2 linked regions of the Homo sapiens genome follow. Changing the gene in region 1 together with any one later gene gives a genetic interaction. Each region holds a gene or a part of one and is shown in the gene's direction. Other genes may lie near its edges.

Region 1 (10,672 bases):
ACTGCGTCCAGCCAAAAAGCTATTTTTGAATGTGATCTGTGTGAAAATAATTCCCTATGGTATGACATATGATAGGCAGGGATGATGTATCTCAGAAATCATACTCCTGTCTTGATATCCCATCAAATATCAATGTTTACATTTAGCGTTTGGATGTCTGGCAGGACATTAAAAAATTGGCAGAGCTGTCCCACACATGCAGAACATCTATAGCGTTCTTGCCTCCTCAAAGGTAATCTTCATGGTGACAACAACAACAACAAAAAAAAAAAAAAAAGAAAGAAAAAAAACACCTCCAGAAATTTCTTAAAATCCCCTAGAGGGCGATACTGTCCCTTAGCCTCAGAGCCATCCTGTTCAGCAATTTCCCCTCCCTTCAGCCCCTGGCTCCAGGGTAGTAGACTTTGTCTCTTAGAGTTGTGCAGTGAGTGTTGGGCCCTGCTGGGAGGTGGGGAACCTCAGATTCCCATAGGTCTTTTGCAACCCAAATGTCTGATGGGGACAGGCCTGTCTTCATAGGTGGCTGCCACACTCAACAATTTGGCTGTGCTCTATGGCAAAAGGGGCAAGTACAAGGAGGCAGAGCCTCTGTGCCAGCGGGCACTGGAGATTCGAGAAAAGGTACCCATGCCCTCTCTCCCTTCTTCTCTTGTCGCTGTGACCCTTCTCTACATGGCTCCTCTGGTCTAACCCTCCTCCTTCACTTTTTTTTTCTCACCCCCATCTCTGCTTTGTTCTCTCTTCCTTCATTCCCTTTCCTCTGCTTTCCACATGTGTGTGCCTACATGCAAACACACGTGTGCTTGTGCACACACATGTTATCATAGCCATTTATCCACTCCTTTGTTCCCTTTCAGGTCCTGGGCACGAATCATCCAGATGTGGCAAAACAGCTGAACAACCTGGCCCTCTTGTGCCAAAACCAGGGCAAGTATGAGGCCGTGGAACGCTACTACCAGCGAGCACTGGCCATCTACGAGGGGCAGCTGGGGCCGGACAACCCTAATGTAGCCCGGACCAAGAACAACCTGGTATGGGAGGAGGGACAAAGTAGGTGGAAGAAACGGAGAGGGGGGCACAGAGGTGGGGGGAGGGGGGGCAGGCGGAGAGGCCACTTGGGTCCTAGAGTCAGGAAGCATCACAGTCTGGCACACTGCTCTCATCAACTTTGTGCTCATGTCTGGGGCTGCCTTTGCGGATGAAGGATCTGCTTCATTCCAGTTATAGAAGTTCCACAGCTTCTTGGGAGTGGGCTGGGAATACCCTTGACCCTACACCTGGAGAAGGAGGTGTGAGAAAGATCTCTGGGGAAAGTGAGAGAGACACTGAGAAGTGGAACTCCCTGAGCCTGGTGAAGACCTTGTCTAAAAAAAAAAAAAAAAAAAAGACCTTGCCTCCCTCCATGTTTTGTTCCTGTATTTTTGCCTTTCTGTCCTCCAGGCTTCCTGTTACCTGAAACAGGGCAAATATGCTGAGGCTGAGACACTATACAAAGAGATCCTGACCCGTGCCCATGTACAGGAGTTTGGGTCTGTGGATGGTGAGTGGTGAGGGCCTGGGGAAGGGGCTGTGGGGAAGAAAAGAAATTCAGACCAAAGGTCGGGGGTTAGGCCACAGCGGTTCCCAGGGGGAGCCAGACCCCTTCAGTCCAGCCTGTCAGCCTCTGGGTCCTGGCTCTCCGACACTGTCTAGCTCCCATCTCTAACCTCCCCACCCCATGTATCACCCCTAGATGACCACAAGCCCATCTGGATGCATGCAGAGGAGCGGGAGGAAATGAGCAAAGTGAGTGGGGGGAAGGGGGGCCAGCCTGGGGAGCTCAAGGCTACCGGGGTCTCTGTCTTACTCCTTGCATTAGCCCAACTCTCACTTCCCATCCCAGCACCAGCCCCAGATGCATGGTGTCCTCCCCAGCCCAGCCTGCACCCTAGCCCCATGCCACCTTGCATCTCAGCATCTCTGTATTCTTATATTTGGCTCTCCCTGCCCTTCTTTCTGGCCTCTCTCTGTCCTGCAGAGCCGGCACCATGAGGGTGGGACACCCTATGCTGAGTATGGAGGCTGGTACAAGGCCTGCAAAGTGAGCAGGTGAGCTGACAGTGAAAAGCCAGCTTGGCCTCCGATGCCCTCCATCCAGTCCCTGCTCCCAGCCTCCCAGACCTTTTCCCTTCCTCCCGTAGACTTTCCCTCAGCTTTAGCTCTGTTCCCTCTCCTATTTTCTTATTTTTTTTCCTCTTGTCTTGCTTGGAAGACAAATGTTTTGTTTTCTGAACTCATTCTCTCTTCCTTCTCTGGTCTCTTTCTCACCACAGCCCCACAGTGAACACTACTCTGAGAAACCTGGGAGCTCTGTATAGGCGCCAGGGAAAGCTGGAGGCTGCTGAGACCCTGGAGGAATGTGCCCTGCGGTCCCGGAGACAGGTCAGAAGCCCAGAGGGGAAGGAGGTCCTAGAGGGAAGGGCCCTGGGGATGAGAGAGTGCCGAGGTTTCTTGGGAGTCTCCTAAGAATAAGCGGAAAGGCTGATGAAGCCAGGAGGGAGAGGAAAGTGAGGCAGTGTTGTGATTGTGGTTGTTTTTAAGCATGTTCTTACCCCCCACCTGCATTTTGTGGTCAGGACTCTAGTTTCAAGATTCACTAAATGGGGATATGAAGGAGAAACCCTGCCCTTTCATAAGGAGGGGACCTGGGTGGTATGGGTGAGAGGAGTGAGGTTGGGGAGAGCCTAAATCAAGAATTTCTTAGATTGTGGGTCTCAATAGTAGGTTGTGAAATCAATTCAGTATGGGCCATGGGGATAAAAATATATACAGATCTATATATAGCAATGCATTGCAAATAGAAAAGGTAAGTATTATTCCAGTAGGTATAAACTGAGACATCACAAGGAAAAATGTTTTCCTTCCAGTGGCTGATGGTGAAAAAAATTTGAAAGCCCCATCCTGAGGAGTTAAGGAGTAGGAAGTCCCAGGTCCTTCCTTTTCCTTCCAGGGCACTGACCCTATCAGCCAGACGAAGGTGGCAGAGCTGCTTGGGGAGAGTGATGGTAGAAGGACCTCCCAGGAGGGCCCTGGAGACAGTGTGAAATTCGAGGGAGGTGAAGATGCTTCTGTGGCTGTGGAGTGGTCCGGGGTAAGTCTGATCATTGCCTTTTCATCTCTCCTGCCCACTCCTGCTGGTGGTGGTGAGAGGCTCTTGGCCATGCTGTCCCAGTCTAGGTAGTGTATTCCTTCAGGGGTATCTCTGGGAGCCAGTTTTTGACAGGACTTTTATTTCCAGTCACTGGGCCTTGGGGGTGGGGGATGTGTGCAGAATAAATGCTAGGAGTAGACTCAGAAACCCATCTGTGTGGGATCCTTGTAGCTTTCATTGCTCACTCCTTTCTGCCAGGATGGCAGTGGGACCCTGCAGAGGAGTGGCTCTCTTGGCAAGATCCGGGATGTGCTCCGCAGAAGCAGTGAACTCTTGGTGAGGAAGCTCCAGGGGACTGAGCCTCGGCCCTCCAGGTATACATGGAAGTCAAGATACAGTAAAGTGGCCGGGTGCAGTGGCTCACGCCTGTAATCCCAGCACTTTGGGAGGCCGAGGCGGGTGGATCACCTGAGGTCAGGAGTTTGAGACCAGCCTGGCCAACAAGGTGAAACTCTCTCCTAAAAATACAAAAATTAGTCGGGTGTGGTGGCAGGTGCCTGTAATCTCAGCTACTTGGGAGGCTGAGGCAGGAGAATTGCTGGAACCCAGGAGGCAGAGGTTGCAGGGAGCCAAGATCATGCCATTGCACTCCAGCCCAGGCGACAACAGCGAGACTCCGTCTCAAAAAAAAAAAGAAAAAAAAAAAAGATATGGTAAAGCAGGCAAGTAAAGTAAGCCCTTGCCTCCAACTCCTCTTGGCTCCTGATCTCTGGAGAAGTATCTCGGAGAGAAACAGGGAGGAAGTCAACGGGCCAGCCATGGAGAGAGAGTTTGGGTAGAATGGGTGCCCCAGTGTGGCAGTGCTCAAGAGGCCCACAGCCTTAAGGCCACTCAGGAGGAAGAGAGGAGGCCTCAATTCTTCCGTTTTCCATTGTAGCAGCAACATGAAGCGAGCAGCCTCCTTGAACTATCTGAACCAACCTAGTGCAGCACCCCTCCAGGTGAGAGCAGTGCTTGTGAGCATATTGGTGGGTGAGGAAAAAAGGACAGCCAGTGAGCAAGCCCAGTGGAGTAAGGGAAGAGGGAAGGGAGAGGAGTCATCTGGGATGAAGATGAGCCAGGGGATTGCAGTCATTAAGGAATCAGGCAGATAGCTTGTGGTGAGTGCTGACCACCAAGGGACAGTTTCAGGCCAGACATAGTAGCAAATAAGTTAATAAGGAGGGAAATAGGAATATTCTGTAAACTGGTACTTTGGAATTATGAATAATTTAAGAATTATTTGGAGATACGAATTATTTTTTCATCCTGCAGCCGCCTTAGTAGTAGATGAGAATGGAAAAAGAAAAGTATTAAATAATCCCCATCTGAGAAAACACTAGTGATATTTTAATGGCAAATGACTTCTTGTATCAACACACAAGTATATGCCAGTATTCATGTGGTTCTTCCAGGTAGCTTCTCCACCAGATTGTGGCCTTCTGGAAAACCCTAGCAGAGGCTAAACAAAGTCCCAGGTCCAGAGATAGACTGGTCCAGAGACAGATGTGATCCTAGGTCCAGAGATACACTGTGACCATGGGATGGATGGACTCTAGGAGCCAGTCTTTGGGAGGCCGAGGTCCCTGAGCTGATGGGGTAGTGTTGTCTGTTTCAGGTCTCCCGGGGCCTCAGTGCCAGCACCATGGACCTCTCTTCAAGCAGCTGACATTCAACCCGGCCCCCAGGTCTGCTGGGTCCCCCCACCCCCACAGCCCTCACAGCATTCCCCATTGCTCCTGGCTCTTCCCCACCCCTAGGTGGGACAGTGAAGGGGAGCAGTTTAACCAGAAGATTGCTGCTGCCCTTAGGGTCTCAGCTCCCTCCTCAGGAATCCCTCTTAGGAAGGACCCTCAGGACACCCTCTCTGCACCCTGTGGTCCTCTAGAGTAGCTAGCTCTGAGGCCCCAAGGTGGGTACAAAGCAGGTATGGCCCTCAGAGATGCAGCCTGCTGCTGGCTTTTCAGTCAGAGGGTTGGGGGCTGGCCAGCCAAGCTGCCTTGCCCTGGCCGCTCTTACTCCCTCCCTCTGCTGTCTCACTTCAGGTCCATGTATTTCACTTTTCTTAAATAAAAGAATCAGGTAACCTTTCTGTGACTTGAGTCCTGATTGAAGAGGGTATGAAGCAGGGCTTGTGTTGGGGCCCTTCACAGAAGGTGAGGGGCAGTGATGGATGGAGCAGCAGGAGGAGTGTTGATTCTTGGATCTCTCCTCTCTTCCTCCCGTTGTTTGTATCATCTCCAGCAGGGCCTGTAGGAAGGCATCTGGGGGATGGGGAAGAAGGAGGCTCACAACCCAAGGAGAAGGTGCTGTGGACTGGGTTGTCAGGGACATGTGGTGGCCATGTGGCAGGACCCTGGAGTCCTGGCGCCACTTCTCCTGGCTGTGAGGCCCTCTGTGGCTGCCATTCCTCCTCCCAGCTGCTTGGGGGAAGGGAGGTCTAAACAGGCCTGGGGGGCCCTCCGGAACCAGAGGGGAGACAAGGCACTATCCATCCCCTCTCAGCATATCTTGGAGGCCTGAGCAGCAGCTGGGGCCCATCTTCTAAAGCTTGACTCCTCCTGACCCGCCTCCTACACCCCTTGCTGCTTTCACAACAAAGAAAGAATGTGGGGGTGGTGGCGCTGGGGGTGGGGGTGCCTGGAACAAGGGTTGTGCTGGGCCTCCCCACAGCTGGAGACTTGGCCATACCCTGACACAGCCCAGACTGCCTGGAGATGGACTTGGGATGAATTTGTCAGTTAGCAGACTTCAGCCTGGCTTTCAGAGCCCAGCGTGTTTCTACCTTTGGGTTCAGATTGGTCTACAGCCAAACCAGACCCCAGTCATGCACACTTCAGCCCCTCTCCGGGCTACACAGCATCTTCAGGTTACTTGGGGACATTAAGGACACCCTGCTGTTCTGGGTCTGCCGTTAAGATTTTGGGTTGCTGAAGAGTTGGCGGGGCCCGCCTCTTCCCCTGCCCCCACCTGGAGAATTCTGGGGGAACTGTTGGCCAGAGCCTCCAGGTATGCCCAGAATGGACCATTCTCCCCAGGGTCCACGGAATCGCACAAGTCACTTAGGTTCTCCCGGATCCCTGCAGAGTCGGTGGTGGGTACAGCAAATACTCAGGTCCCCTGCACTTCCCTGAGCCTTGCTCTCTCTATTCTCCATCCCTCTCCAGACCCCTCCCCCTACTGAGCTCCTCCCCGCCTCGGCGAGGAGGGGGCGTCGAGGGGGCGGGGCGCCGTGCGGGGGCCGGAGGGGAGGGGGCGTCGTGGGGCGGGGCTTGGCGGCGGCGGCGGCGGCGCGCGGGGACTCGGAGGTACTGGGCGCGCGCGGCTCCGGCTCGGGACGCCTCGGGACGCCTCGGGGTCGGGCTCCGGCTGCGGCTGCTGCTGCGGCGCCCGCGCTCCGGTGCGCTCCGCCTCCTGTGCCCGCCGCGGAGCGCAGTCTGCGCGCCCGCCGTGCGCCCTCAGCTCCTTTTCCTGAGCCCGCCGCGATGGGAGCTGCGCGGGGATCCCCGGCCAGACCCCGCCGGTTGCCTCTGCTCAGCGTCCTGCTGCTGCCGCTGCTGGGCGGTGAGTACCCGAGAGTTGGGGGCACAGAGCTTGGGAAGCGCGGGAGTCCCGTGGGCAAAAGGCTGCGCCCGGGGCGGTGGGTTTGGGCGGCTGGAACGGCCCTGGAGTAGTGGAGAGGCTCGCTGGGGGTGCAGGCTTGCGGCGGAAGGGCGCAAGGAGCCCGGGTGTCGGGAGGCTGGCGAAGCCTCCAGGGACGCGGTCAGGGTACCCCTCCCACTCGCGCCGCGGGGACGCATTTCCAGCCTCCCTGAGTTTTTCTGGTCTGAGCCGAGAGTTTGCTCGAGAACTGCCGAGAGTTGCTGGCTCTCGGGCCCAGATGGGGAGTTTCTTGTCGGGGGAGAAAAGACCATCCGCACCCACCGTGGGGAGCGCGATGGAGAAAAAGGAATTCCCCACCCCACCCGGCAGGGTCGGCCCAGGTAAGAGTTGCTGGTTTGGGGCCCGATGCCGGACAGACCTGCGGCGCGCAAAGCGCGGAGCTTTGTTACCTACGCCGACCCGACGTTCCCGGCTTCCCTCCTCCGAGTTCCTGGGCAAAGCTGAGACCCCAGATGGCCCTGCGGGTGAGGGCGGAAGAAGGGAAGAGTTAGGGGCCGCCCCCATCCATGGCCTCTAGCTACTGGTCTGGAACCCTGCGCCCACTCCGTGCCAGGGCCGAATCCGGGGATCCGAGGGTCCCAGGCTGTCGCGGTGACTAATGTGTGAAGGCCGCTGCCAAAATCGGGCATGGCCTGGCTGCAAAGGTGCGGACGGGGTTTGTTCTGCTCCTTCCTGGATTTCCATCCTGACTGTCCTCACAGAGGAAAGGAAGTATTTCTAAGGGAAGAAAGGCAAAAAGAGCTCATTCTGGCTTTTCTTGGGGGGGGGCCTTAGCATTTTAACGAGGGTGTGGCCCTCATCACCAGGGCAGACAGCACCGCCCCCCCAACTCCCGCAGCTTTTATTTCCTGGCTTGGTCACACCTAAGAGTCATCACTGAGGTGTTGAAGTGCCTTACAGGAAAGCACCAAGCCACCCGCACATCCCAAATAGCCCGGACTGGAAATAAAGCCCCCGACCCTCCACAACACTCCTTGGTGGTCCTCGAAGCAGCTTTCTCTTGGGGAGCTCTGTCGAGGAGACCTGTCCTAGGTGATCACCTTCCATCTCCTTTGAAGGTGGCAATGGGAAGGGCATGGGTAAGGAATTGCCTTTCTAATATCTTTCTGGCCTGCCAGCTGTGGAGGGGTTTTGGTGCTGGTGGAATCAACATCTCCCCTGCCCCCAGTTGTAAAAGGAGAGGTAAATGTAACCCAGGAAAGAGACCAATCTCCAGGGATTTGGAGGAGGTGTTTCTGGAGTTGCCCCGTTTTTCTTGTGATGTGTGTGGTGGTTATTGCTCGTGGCAGAATCCACATCTGCTCCCAGAGGAAGTATGGAAGTTTTTTTGCACAGCCAGGATGGGGGCCCAGCCATCTGGGCGAGCAGCCCAAGCTCACAGGCCCCCTGGCTGTCCTGGTTGGGTTTTGGTGTGTGGGTCTGCCCAATGAGGCTGCCTTCACTGCTGCTGTTCAGGGTACTAGAGTCAAGGGGAGTTTCTGGTGAAGATGGGGCTCTTGCTCAACAAATGCTGAATTCCTAAATTCCTTCCATGAGAAGATGACTCTGATGTTAATTGACTTAATCTGGTGACTGGTTGGTGTTTAGTGTGTGTGCGCGCGTGTGTGTGGGGGATCCTGTTGGGGGAAGTTAGGGCAGGCTGAGGGCTTAGGACAGGAGGTCTGTAGTCTCCTCAGGGGTGGGGGGATGTCTTGTGCTCAACAAAGGAACATTTTAATGAGAGCCTTAAATCAATTCCACCAAATGTGCCTTGTTGTGGAACCTGTCCATGTGCTGTAAACAATTTCAGTGGAGGCCGAGGCGCCTGCTGTCTTCTAGTGAAATCCTGGGACTCAACCCACCCCCAGACGCATGACTTCAGGGGCAACGGTTTTTTAATAGATCACAGTAGATGTTTGCATCTCATTGTTTAATTGTGTAATTAACTGGAGTTGTAGTGAGATCCCACTGTTAATAAGGCTGGAGTAAGGAACCTAGGCTGGCTAGGTTTGTGGATTAGACCATTTTAAAGTCTGGGTAATTATGCCATAAATGGCAGAGTTACTTTCCAAACTTTGAGATGCTGTTGTAATAAATATGGTGGAGGAGGAGGAGGCTTGATGTTTGAAACTATGGATTCTTAACCCCAACCTCTTGTACAGTCAGCTGTGGTCACTTCTCATTCCAATTCCCATCCCCCTCCCTGGTTTCTTTCCTCCGGGCTCTTGTTTCTTTGGGGAAATTGAGTCGTCATGTTCTGGGATAGGCTGTCTGCAGATTCCTCAAGGCTCTGCAGCCTGTAATTCAGGCCTAGGAGTTGCTTTTATTAGTGATGGCTTTTCTCAGCTGTTGGGAAGTATGGTGGCAGGGCAAGGGTGCTCTTCTTGTCACTTGTCAAATGATATACTCAAACTCCTGGTGTTCAGAGCAGCATTGAGTGGTGGACAGAGCTCAAGCAATGGAGATAAAGTATGGTCCTTCCTTGGCATCTGCAGGGAATTGGAATAGGACTCCCTGAGAATAACAAAATCCAAGGGTGCGGCCAGGCCTGGTGGCTCACGCCTGTAATCCCAGCACTTTGGGAGGCCGAGGCGGGCGGATCATGAGGTCAGGAGATTGAGACCATCCTGGCTAACACGGTGAAACCCTGTCTCTACTAAAAATACAAAAAATTAGCCAGGCGTGGTGGCGGGTGCCCGTAGTCCCAGCTACTCGGGAGGCTGAGACAGGAGAATGGCCTGAACCCGGGAGGTGGAGCTTGCAGTGATCGTGCCACTGCACTCCAGCTTGGGCGAGATCGTGCCGAGATCGTGCCACTGCACTCCAGCTTGGGTGACAGAGCGAGACTCCGTCTCAAAAAAAAAAAAAAATCCAAGGGTGCTCAAGTCTCTTATATAAAATGGTGTCGTATTTACATATAACGTACACACAACTTCCCTGTATACTTTTGTTTTGTTTTGTTATGAGACAGGGTCTCCTCTATCACCCAGGCTAGAGTGCAGTGGCACAATCTTGGCTCACTGAAGCCTCAAATTCCTGGGCTCAAGCAGTCTTCCTGCCTCAGTGCTCTAAAGTATGAGGATTACAGGCATGATCCACTATGCCCAGCTTCTCCTGTATACTTTAAATCATCTCTAAGGGCCAGGTTTACGCCTGTTATCCCACCACTTTGGGAGGCAGAGGGAGGAGGATCGCTTGAGCCCAGGGGCTCAAGACCAGCCTTGGCAACACAATGAGACCTCCACCTGTACAAAAAAAAAAAAAAAATTGCCAGGCATGGTGGCACGTGCCTGTGGTCCCAGCTGCCCAGGAGACTGAGGTGGGAGTATTGCCTGAGCCCAGCAGGTTGAGGCTACAGTAAGCCATGATTGTGTCACTGCACTTCGGTCTGGGTGACAGAGTTCAAAAAAAAAAAAAAAAAAAAGGGCAGGATGCAGTGGCTCACGCCTGTAATCCCAGCACTTTGGGAGGCTGAGGTGGGCGGATCATGAGGTTAGGAGAGCGAGACCATCCTGGCTAACATGGTGAAACCCCATCTCTACTAAAAATACAAAAAATTAGCCAGGCGTGGTGGCAGGCGCCTGTAGTCCCAGCTACTTGGGAGGCTGAGGCAGGAGAATGGCGTGAACCCGGGAGGCAGAGCTTGCAGTGAGCCGAGATTGCACCACTGCACTCCAGCCTGGGTGTCAGAGCGAGACTCTGTCTCAAAAAAAACAAAAAAATCTGTAAATTACTTGTAATACCTATTACAATGGAAATGCTATGTAAATAACTGTTGTATTCTTTAATTTGTATTCTTTTTTATTGTTGTATTGTTTTTAATTTTTATCTTCCCCCAGTGTTTTTGATCCTCTGTTGAGG
Region 2 (10,483 bases), on another chromosome or scaffold:
TCTCCTGCCTCAGCCTCCCGAGTAGCTGGGATTACAGGCATGCACCACCATGCCTGGATAATTTTGTATTTTTAGTAGAGACAGGGTTTCTCCATGTTGCTCAAGCTAGTTTCGAACTCCCAACCTCAGGTGATCCACCCACCTCGGCCTCCCAAAGTGCTGGGATTACAGGCATGAGCCACTGCAAAGGCCTTTTACCCTCTCTTTTTATGCTTTTCATTCCTTTTTATCCATTCTTCATTTTAGGTAGTTTCTGCTGTCCTTTCTTCCAATTTATTACTTGCTCCTCAGTTTAGTCTAACATAGTATTAAATCTATCATTTGGTTCTTAATTTTGGTCTTTTAATATTTTGGGTCTGTATTATTATTATTTTTGAGACAGGGTCTCACTCCTGTTGCCCAGGCTGGAGTTCAGTGGCATAAACACAGCTCACTGAAGCCTCAACCTCTTGGGCTCAAGCGATCCTCCTGTGTCAACCTCCAGAGTAGCTCGGACTATAGGCATATGTCACCACACCCAACTAATTTTTTAATTTTTGGTAGAGATAAGGTCTCACTATGTTGCCTAAGCTGGTCTCCAACTCCTGGGCTCTAGTGATCCTCACCTCAGCCTCCCAAAGTTCTGGGATTACAGATGTGAGGCACCAAGCAGGACCTTAGATTTTCTATTTATTCTACTCCCAGGTTGCCCCTAGGAGTGCAGCCTTTTGAGATCCTAGCCCAAAACACGAAGGTGGTTTACCAAGGTTATCACCTTTGGGGACATTTGGACTCCTTTTTTTTTTTTTTTTTTTGAGAGTGAGTTTCCCCCTATTGCCCAGGCTGGAGTGCAGTGGCGCAATCTCGGCTCACTACAACCTCTGCCTCCTGGGTTCAAGTGATTCTCCTGCCTCAGCCTCCCGAGTAGCTGGGCTTACAGGCATGCACCACCACGCCTGGCTAATGTTTGTATTTTTAGTAGAGATGGGGGGTCTCACCATCTTGTGCAGGCTGGACTTGAACTCCTGATCTCATGATCCATCCATCTCAGCCTCCCAAAGTGCTGGGGTTACAGGCATGAGCGACCGTGCCTGGCCCTTTTTCTTTTTTTTAATTTAAAAAAATTGAAATGGGGTCTCGCTCTGTTGCCCAGGCTGGTCTGAAACTCCTAAGCTCAAGCCATCCTCCCGCCTTGGCCTCCTAAAGTGCTGGGATTACAGGTGTGAGCCACCACACCCGGCCTGGACTTCACCGGCCCCACACAACCTATTTTCTGCCACTAATTCCAAATCAGCAAATGACCCCAGGGTAAAATCAGCCCTACTGCTGGGCTTACTTCTCTACTTTCCTGTACTTTCATGCTGTCACACCAATAATTTCTCACTATCTTATTTTTTTAATTATTATTATTTTTTGAGATGAAGTTTTGCTCGAAATGGAGTGAAATGGTACGATCTCAGCTCATTGCAACCTCCGCCTCCTGTGTTCAAGCAATTCTGCCTCCGCCTCCCAAGTAGCTGGGATTACAGGCACCTGCCACCACGCCCGGCTAATTTTTGTATTTTTAGTAGAGACGGGGTTTTGCCACGTTGGCCAGGCTGGTCTCGAACTCCTGACCTTAGGTGATCCACCTGCCTTGGCCTCCCAACGTGCTAGGACTATAGGCGTAAGCCACTGTGCCTGGCCTCACTATCTTATTAGTTCTTTTATTATTATTTATTTATTTATTTATTTATTGTTTTTTTTGAGACAGGGTCTTGCTCTGTTGCCCAGGCTGGAGTGCAGTGGTGTGATCTCGGCTCACTGCAATCTCTGCTTCTGGGTTCAAGTGATTCTTGTGCCTCAGCCTCCCGAGTAGCTGGGATTACAGGTGTGCACCACCAAGCCCGGCTATTTTTTTTTTTTTTTTTTTGAGACAGAGTTTCACTCTTGCTGCCCAGGCTGGAGTGCAGTGGTGGGATCTCGGCTCACTGCAACCTCAACCCCCTGGGTTCAAGCAATTCTGCCTCAGCCTCCCGAGTAGCTGGGATTACAGGCACCTGCCACCACGCTTGGCTAATTTTTTTTTTTTTTTGAAGAGACGGAGTCTTGCTCTGTCACCCAGGCTGGAGTGCAGTGGCGCGATCTCGGCTCACTGCAAGCTCCGCCTCCCAGGTTCGAGCCATTCTCCTGCCTCAGCCTCCTGAATAGCTGGGGCTACAGGCGCCCGCCACTGTGCCCAGCTAATTTTTTGTATTTTTAGTAGAGACAGGGTTTCACCATGTTAGCCAGGATGGTCTCAATCTCCTGACCTTGTGATCCGCCCATCTCGGCCTCCCAAAATGCTGGGATTACAGGCTTGAGCCACTGCGCCCGGCCCAGTTCTTTTATTTTTATTTTTATTTATTTATTGTTTTTTGAAACAGGGTCTTGCTCTGCTGTCCAGGCTGGAATGCAGGTGCGCAATCTTGGCTCACTGAAACCTCTGCCTCCTGGGTTCAAGTGATTCTTGTGCCTCAGCCTCCCTAGTACCTGGGATTACAGGCATGCACCACCAAGCCCGGCCAATTTTTTTTTTTTCTTTGAGACAGAGTTTCACTCTTGTTGCCCAGGCTGGAGTGCAATGGCATGATCTTGGCTCACCGCAACCTCTGCCTCCCAGGTTCAAGCGATTCTCCTGCCTCAGCCTCCTGAGTAGCTGGGATTACAGGCATGCGCCACCATGTCCGGCTAATTTTTGTATTTTTAGTAGAGACAGGGTTTCTCCGTGTTGGTCAAGCTAGTCTCGAATTCTCAACCTAAGGTGATCCACCCGCCTCGGCCTCCCAAAGTGCTAGGATTACAGGCATGAGCCACCGCACCTGGCCTACACCCAGCTAATTTTTGTATTTTTAGTAGAGACGGGGTTTCATCATGAAGGCCAGACTGGTCTTGAACTCCTGGCCTCAAGTGATCAGCCCACTTCCGCCTCCCAAAGTGCTGGGACTACAGGTATGAGACACCATGCCCAGCCAGTTCTTTGATTTTTAAAAAAGTATTTCATCCAACACTTTTAGTTGTCTGTAGCTTTAGGGCTAGTTCACCATTATTGAAAGGAGCTCAATTACTAAACTATATTTCTAGTCCAGTCATTTCTTCTGAGCTCCAGCTCCACTAGTCCGAGGCCTATCAGACACTTCCACTTGATTATCTATAGGCACCTCACATCCAATAAACTAAAAGTATCATCCTTCCAAAACCTTCTTCAGCTTCTCAGCTAATGGGATCAACATCACCTAGATCTGTTATTTGTATAATGTCCTCACTTCCCAAAGTTCAACTGATTCTACTTACAAAACATCTCCCCATCTGCATCTGCTGTCTACCTCTACAATCTCTGGAATCCGCCATCTCCATTACAGGACAAGAACATTATGCCTGTCACACAAAAGCTTTCATAATCTTCCCTCCACTGCCCTCTTCCCTGCCTCTCTTCCTCAGTCATCCTACATGCACACACCTTACATCCTAGATCAGGGCTGAAAACACAAACTCCTACTACAGCCAGGCAGGTAATGCACCTGAGTGAAGCAGGGTGCCTAGGAACCATAATGAACTAGACTCATTTCAAGGAGATAATGGATACTTGCTCTGGTTAATTGCTCATGGAGGGATGCAGGACAATATATTGCCAGCTCTTCCAATATTTTAAGGAAAGTCAGAAATCCAGGTTGGGCCTGGTGGCTCACACATGTTATCCAGGAATTTTGGGAGGCCAATGCAAGAGGATCGCTTGAGCCTAGGAGTTCAAGACCAGCCTGGGCAACATAGGGAGACCTCCATCTTTGAAGGAAAAAAAAAAAAAAGTCAGAAATCCAAATATTCATGTACCATCTTTTTTTTTTTTTTTTTTTTGAGACGGAGTCTTGCTCTGTTGCCCAGGCTGGAGTGCAGTGGCGCAATCTCGGCTCGTTGCAACCTCTGTCTCCCGGATTCAAGCAATTCTCTACCTCAGCCTCCCAAGTAGCTGGGATTACAGGCGGCCGCCACCATGTCTGGCTAATTTTTGTATTTTTAGTAGAGACGGGGTTTCACCATCTTGGCCAGGCTGATCTTGAACTCCTGACCTCATGATCCACCCACCCTGACCTCCCAAAGTGCTGGGATTAGAGGCTTGAGCCACCTTGCCCGGCCCCATCTTATGATATTTAAGTGTGGGGAATTAAATACAATATACATAAAGAGAATGCAAGCCAAAGCATGCCTGCCATCTCAAGTTGGCCTATCGACCACAATTTGCTCTAGATAATAAGAATATTCAAGTCTCCTAAAATTCCATATATAGGAAATGTACTTCAACATTCTGCTCTGTCTACACAGAATACCTTTCTCATCCTTCCATCCTCTTGAATTATTTCTTTTTTGGAGATTTTCTGGCCCCAATCCAAGCAGAATGAATAGCCCTCATCTGAGTCCTTTAGCAATTTATCCATGTCTCCCCTGTAGTGCTTAATGCATGTTGCATTACGGTTATTTGTCCCAAATGGAGCTCCTCAAAGGCACGGACTATATATATTCATCTTTATGCCCTCGGCACCTAGTGGGTGCTTAATGCACCGAAGGTTCTCTGGAAATGTTTGCTGACCTGAAGTTTGGTGATCTTATGTCCTGCTTAGGCGCAGCGTTGGAGAGGTTGGCGCTGCAATGCCGTCAATAACCCCCGATGACCATTAGAGGGCACACTGATTCCACAGCAGTCTGCACCGGGGGCCCAGCTGTCAAGTGCTCCAAAACCCACTCCCCAATTTACGCCTCCAGTGGTCATCTCCCACAGCCTTCATTTTAACAACCCTCAACACAAAACAGTCATTTTCTTGGGGCGTCCCTGAGGTGTGAACCTCCTCCCTCCCAGACACCCACCCACTCTCCCCATCTTCCTACAATTTGGGCGCTAAAGATTTAATTCCTCTCTGACACCAGATCATTTTTTCACAGCTAATCTGCACAGTCTGGAAGGTGGCAGGGAGGGAAAGAGAGGGAGATCATAGAAGGAATGGGTAACAAGCACTCTGGGCTCACCTTCAACTTTAACGGACTTTCCAGAAACCCGTCACCTTCCACCCCACACCCAAACACACACATCCACGCACTCACTCAGTTTCCTGCCAGGATCCCAAACCAGCACACCTTTCCCTCTTCCCCCGAGGAGACCAGGTAGGAGGCGAGGGAAAAGGTGGGGCGCAAGTGGGCCCCGGTTGCTTCCACACACACCCTCCGTTCAGCCGTCCTTTCCATCCCGGCGAGGGCGCACCTTCAGAGGGTCCTGTCCTCCAAAGAGGTAGGCGTGGGGCGGCCGAGACCGGGGAAGATGGTCCACGGGGAAGCGCGCGGGCTGGGCGGCGGGGAGGAAGGAGTTAAAGATCCTGGATTGGCTCTTCTGTCACTGAGTCTGGGAGGGGAAGCGGCTGGGAGGGAGGGTTCGGAGCTTGGCTCGGGTCCTCCACGGTTCCCTCCGGATAGCCGGAGACTTGGGCCGGCCGGACGCCCCTTCTGGCACACTCCCTGGGGCAGGCGCTCACGCACGCTACAAACACACACTCCTCTTTCCTCCCTCGCGCGCCCTCTCTCATCCTTCTTCACGAAGCGCTCACTCGCACCCTTTCTCTCTCTCTCTCTCTCTCTCTAACACGCACGCACACTCCCAGTTGTTCACACTCGGGTCCTCTCCAGCCCGACGTTCTCCTGGCACCCACCTGCTCCGCGGCGCCCTGCGCGCCCCCCTCGGTCGCGCCCCTTGCGCTCTCGGCCCAGACCGTCGCAGCTACAGGGGGCCTCGAGCCCCGGGGTGAGCGTCCCCGTCCCGCTCCTGCTCCTTCCCATAGGGACGCGCCTGATGCCTGGGACCGGCCGCTGAGCCCAAGGGGACCGAGGAGGCCATGGTAGGAGCGCTCGCCTGCTGCGGTGCCCGCTGAGGCCATGCCGGGGCCCCGGCGCCCCGCTGGCTCCCGCCTGCGCCTGCTCCTGCTCCTGCTGCTGCCGCCGCTGCTGCTGCTGCTCCGGGGCAGCCACGCGGGCAACCTGACGGTAGCCGTGGTACTGCCGCTGGCCAATACCTCGTACCCCTGGTCGTGGGCGCGCGTGGGACCCGCCGTGGAGCTGGCCCTGGCCCAGGTGAAGGCGCGCCCCGACTTGCTGCCGGGCTGGACGGTCCGCACGGTGCTGGGCAGCAGCGAAAACGCGCTGGGCGTCTGCTCCGACACCGCAGCGCCCCTGGCCGCGGTGGACCTCAAGTGGGAGCACAACCCCGCTGTGTTCCTGGGCCCCGGCTGCGTGTACGCCGCCGCCCCAGTGGGGCGCTTCACCGCGCACTGGCGGGTCCCGCTGCTGACCGCCGGCGCCCCGGCGCTGGGCTTCGGTGTCAAGGACGAGTATGCGCTGACCACCCGCGCGGGGCCCAGCTACGCCAAGCTGGGGGACTTCGTGGCGGCGCTGCACCGACGGCTGGGCTGGGAGCGCCAAGCGCTCATGCTCTACGCCTACCGGCCGGGTGACGAAGAGCACTGCTTCTTCCTCGTGGAGGGGCTGTTCATGCGGGTCCGCGACCGCCTCAATATTACGGTGGACCACCTGGAGTTCGCCGAGGACGACCTCAGCCACTACACCAGGCTGCTGCGGACCATGCCGCGCAAAGGCCGAGGTGAGACGCTGGCACACCCCGTCCCGCCGCTTAGCCGCAGGGCCTCCCCTCTGACCTGCCGGAGGCATCGGGACTTTCTCTCTCATCTGGGGGCACTCTTCTTTCTCCTCGCCGTTCTTCATTCTACTTTCAGCTCCCTGGCCCTTTCTACAGCTGAGTTTCTATTTCCCTCTCTTCTTCCGCCACCCCCACCACGTCTCTATCCTCTCATCTCCCCGACCCCCACTCATTCCCTCCCACCCTAGCACAGCTCGGTTCCGGTCCCTTTTTCCCTCCCACATTTTCTCTCTTCCCTATAGCCTTCTCCCTTCTTTCATCCTCTCCTCTCATTGCGCCTCATCCCCTCTCTTCTCCCCCTCCCTCTCCCTCCTCTCTCCCTCCTGGCCCCATCCTTCTCCACCTTCAGCTCCACTATCCCCCTCTCCCTACCCGTTCCTTCCTCCCTTCCGCCTCCCCCTTCCTCCTCCCGCCCACCGCCCCGCACCCGCCCGTTCCACCCTTCGACTTTCTCCTGCTGTGGCCTAGGCTGAGCCGGGAGTTACCACTTAACTCTCACTGGGTCTCTCCTGCACCCTATCTCTAAACTTCCTCCCTTGGGTGCCCCAGCTTTCCTACTCCTGTCTCTCCCGCAGTACCTAGGCTTCTCTCTCTGACTCTCCGTCTTTCTCCAGTTATCTACATCTGCAGCTCCCCTGATGCCTTCAGAACCCTCATGCTCCTGGCCCTGGAAGCTGGCTTGTGTGGGGAGGACTACGTTTTCTTCCACCTGGATATCTTTGGGCAAAGCCTGCAAGGTGGACAGGGCCCTGCTCCCCGCAGGCCCTGGGAGAGAGGGGATGGGCAGGATGTCAGTGCCCGCCAGGCCTTTCAGGTGAGTACCTAGGTTTGAAGCCCAGGCTGTCTCAGCTTGTGGCACATCATTTCTGGGCACTGTGTCCCTCAGCGTCTGAAAGAATTCCAGAAAAGAGGTTTTTGTCTGTTTGTTTCTTTATGCACTCCTGGTAACTCACAGAACAGAAAAGAGGTTGGTGATGCTCACTGGGAATTAGGCAATGAAGGGCAGGGGACTGCCCAGGGGCGCTTCGCCACCAGCAGGCTAAAAAGATAAGAAAATGGGCTTGAGGCGGGAGGAGGATAAAGTCCCACAGCCTGGACAGGACTTGGAGAAGGCATCCCATTGGATCCCCTGCTTTGGAATGGGCATCACTTCATGCAGGGCATAGGGTCCAGTTTGACCTTGAGCTAAGCAGAGACGCAGCTCTGGGAGGTGGGCTCCCAACTGTTGGGGCCCCACAGTACTAGGGAATAGTCAGCTCCCAACTCTCTGCTCTCCACTGACCCCTTTCTCAGGCTGCCAAAATCATTACATATAAAGACCCAGATAATCCCGAGTACTTGGAATTCCTGAAGCAGTTAAAACACCTGGCCTATGAGCAGTTCAACTTCACCATGGAGGATGGCCTGGTAAGAAGGGGTCCCGGGACCCTCCAGCGTGGACCTCCAGCCCCCACTCCATGACCCTCTGCCAGCCTCCATCCTTCCCTATTCCCAGTTCTCCCCTTCCTTCCCTCCCTTCCCATTGTTCCATGTTTCTCGTGATGATGGAGGAGGACACTGGCAAGTTCAGCCTCTGAAACTCAGGTCATCATCAGTAATATGGAGACGATACATCCTGCCCTGTCTACCTAGTAGGATTCAGGAAGTGATGCTAATCCAAAGGCATCGTTTAAATAGTAAAATCTCCCTGTGATATAGGGGTGTTATTTTCTCCCATCCTCTTCCAAAATCCCAGTGCCTCTTGTTCCCTTCCCCACAGCTCCCACCTCCATGCCCTTCATATGCCCACCCCAGCCGACCTCTGTTTGCCCCTACAGGTGAACACCATCCCAGCATCCTTCCACGACGGGCTCCTGCTCTATATCCAGGCAGTGACGGAGACTCTGGCACATGGGGGAACTGTTACTGATGGGGAGAACATCACTCAGCGGATGTGGAACCGAAGCTTTCAAGGTCAGGGCCTGGAGGTGGCTGGAATGGGCTGCCTTGGGGGATGAATCCCAGGTGCCCAGTGTCAAGCCATGAGAAGCCTATTGTCCTGCAGCAGTTACCTATGCACACCAGCCTTTTCCTCCACAGCTTTTTTCAGGCCCATCCCTCAGAAGTCCTACAAAGTGTCCAATCTCAATCATCCCTGCTGGGCACTGAGTTCTTTTACCTTTCTTTTTCTTTTTTCTTTTTTTTTTGAGATGGAGTCTCGCTCTGTCCCCAAGACTGGAGTGTGGTGGTGCAATCTCGGCTCACTTCAACCTCCGCCTCCCAGGTTCAAGCAATTCTCCTGCCTCAGCCTCCTGAGTAGCTGGGATTACAGGTGCCCTCCACCAACACTTGGCTAATTTTTTGTATTTTTTTTAGTAGAGACAGGGTTTCACCACGTTGGTCAGGCTGGTCTTGAACTCCTGACGTCAGGTGATCTGCCCGCCTCAGCCTCCCAAAGTGCTGGGATTACAAGCATGAGCCACAGTGCCCGGCCGTTTTACCATTTACTATCATTCTGTATACATGTATGTTTGGAAGGCAAGGCAAAAAAGATTAGAGGATGAAGAGATGAAGTGGGGCACCCCTGAACTTCTATTCTCTCAAACATAGTCATCTTCCCCCATGTCCTCAGGTGTGACAGGATACCTGAAAATTGATAGCAGTGGCGATCGGGAAACAGACTTCTCCCTCTGGGATATGGATCCCGAGAATGGTGCCTTCAGGGTAAGTTTGTGCACCCAGAAGACAGTGCCAATTCCAAATGACATCTCACCCTCCTACTTCCCCCCCACAGCCCTGCCAGGGCACCTGTTTATCCTGTAGCCATTCCACCATGCCTGGACACTTACAAGAGCCCTGGATAAAACAGACCCAGCTCCAGTCTGGGGAAGCCACCAGAATGATAGGGACTCACAGGCATCACACTTGGGGAGCCCCATGCCTGAGGAGGGAGCACAAGCCTGCCCTCGGGGAGCTCCGAAGGGAGGCAGGCAGGACCGCCTCCCAGCAGAGACAGGGCTGTGAAAGATGCACATTACACAGCTCTGCAAGCGAGCAGGGACAGGAAGGCGCTGAGGCCAATGGCCACAAGGGACAGGTCATCCAGAGAAGGCCTCCTGGAAGACGGGCACATGGACTGGGCCTGCGAATGTAGGCTAAGGTGAACATTACCTTCTCCTGTTTTCTACCAAGAAAATAAGTAGAGAAAAATCAATGCTTGGTTGGTACTTCAACCAAGATTATAAACTCCCTGAGTGTAGAGATCGGGTTCTAAATGGAGTTTTCTTTATAAACCCCTTGATAGTTTTCAGGTGTTTCCACTTGAGTACTATGTGTGTGGTATGAGGTCCTGTGTCCAGTTGCAGTGGGGACTTGGTAAGCAGGTGACAACCCAGATATATATGTAGGCTCTAGAAGCAGAGCTGGGGTAGGTGGGAGGTGAGACTGCTGCACTCACAGCATGCCTTCCCCGCAGGCCCTGGCCTAGCCACCACTCCTGCTCTCCCTTAGGTTGTACTGAACTACAATGGGACTTCCCAAGAGCTGGTGGCTGTGTCGGGGCGCAAACTGAACTGGCCCCTGGGGTACCCTCCTCCTGACATCCCCAAATGTGGCTTTGACAACGAAGACCCAGCATGCAACCAAGGTGACTGCCCCTTGCCTTCCAGGCCTCCATCCCAGAGATGCTGCATCCTTCCCCTAAGCACAGTCGAGTAGGTGCTCCTGTCCCATGCTGAGGGCTTTCTGGAGAATGACTCCTGCCTTTTTCTTCCCTTCATCCATCATCCCAGTTCACTGATGGACTATTAGAAA

Evidence for each region.
Region 2: changes in PTK7 (region 1) and NPR1 together harm fitness more than expected from each alone (negative genetic interaction), as found in Homo sapiens cells (one study listed by BioGRID).

Annotation. Positions count from the first base shown.
Region 1 is NC_000006.12:43,069,835-43,080,506, forward strand, and holds the start of PTK7 (inactive tyrosine-protein kinase 7 isoform a precursor), read left to right. Parts: upstream 1-6,479; 5' UTR 6,480-6,654; coding exon 6,655-6,733; intron 6,734-6,979; exon of another isoform or gene 6,980-7,049; coding exon of another isoform or gene 7,050-7,152; intron 7,153-10,672. Other genes in the region: KLC4 (kinesin light chain 4), read left to right, coding at 520-621, 858-1,031, 1,441-1,540, 1,733-1,785, 2,018-2,088, 2,313-2,421, 2,990-3,130, 3,389-3,504 and 2 more. UniProt on the Homo sapiens protein: Inactive tyrosine kinase involved in Wnt signaling pathway. Component of both the non-canonical (also known as the Wnt/planar cell polarity signaling) and the canonical Wnt signaling pathway.
Region 2 is NC_000001.11:153,673,196-153,683,678, forward strand, and holds the start of NPR1 (atrial natriuretic peptide receptor 1 precursor), read left to right. Parts: upstream 1-5,492; 5' UTR 5,493-5,913; coding exon 5,914-6,634; intron 6,635-7,305; coding exon 7,306-7,505; intron 7,506-7,984; coding exon 7,985-8,098; intron 8,099-8,508; coding exon 8,509-8,644; intron 8,645-9,302; coding exon 9,303-9,394; intron 9,395-10,180; coding exon 10,181-10,316; intron 10,317-10,483. UniProt on the Homo sapiens protein: Receptor for the atrial natriuretic peptide NPPA/ANP and the brain natriuretic peptide NPPB/BNP which are potent vasoactive hormones playing a key role in cardiovascular homeostasis.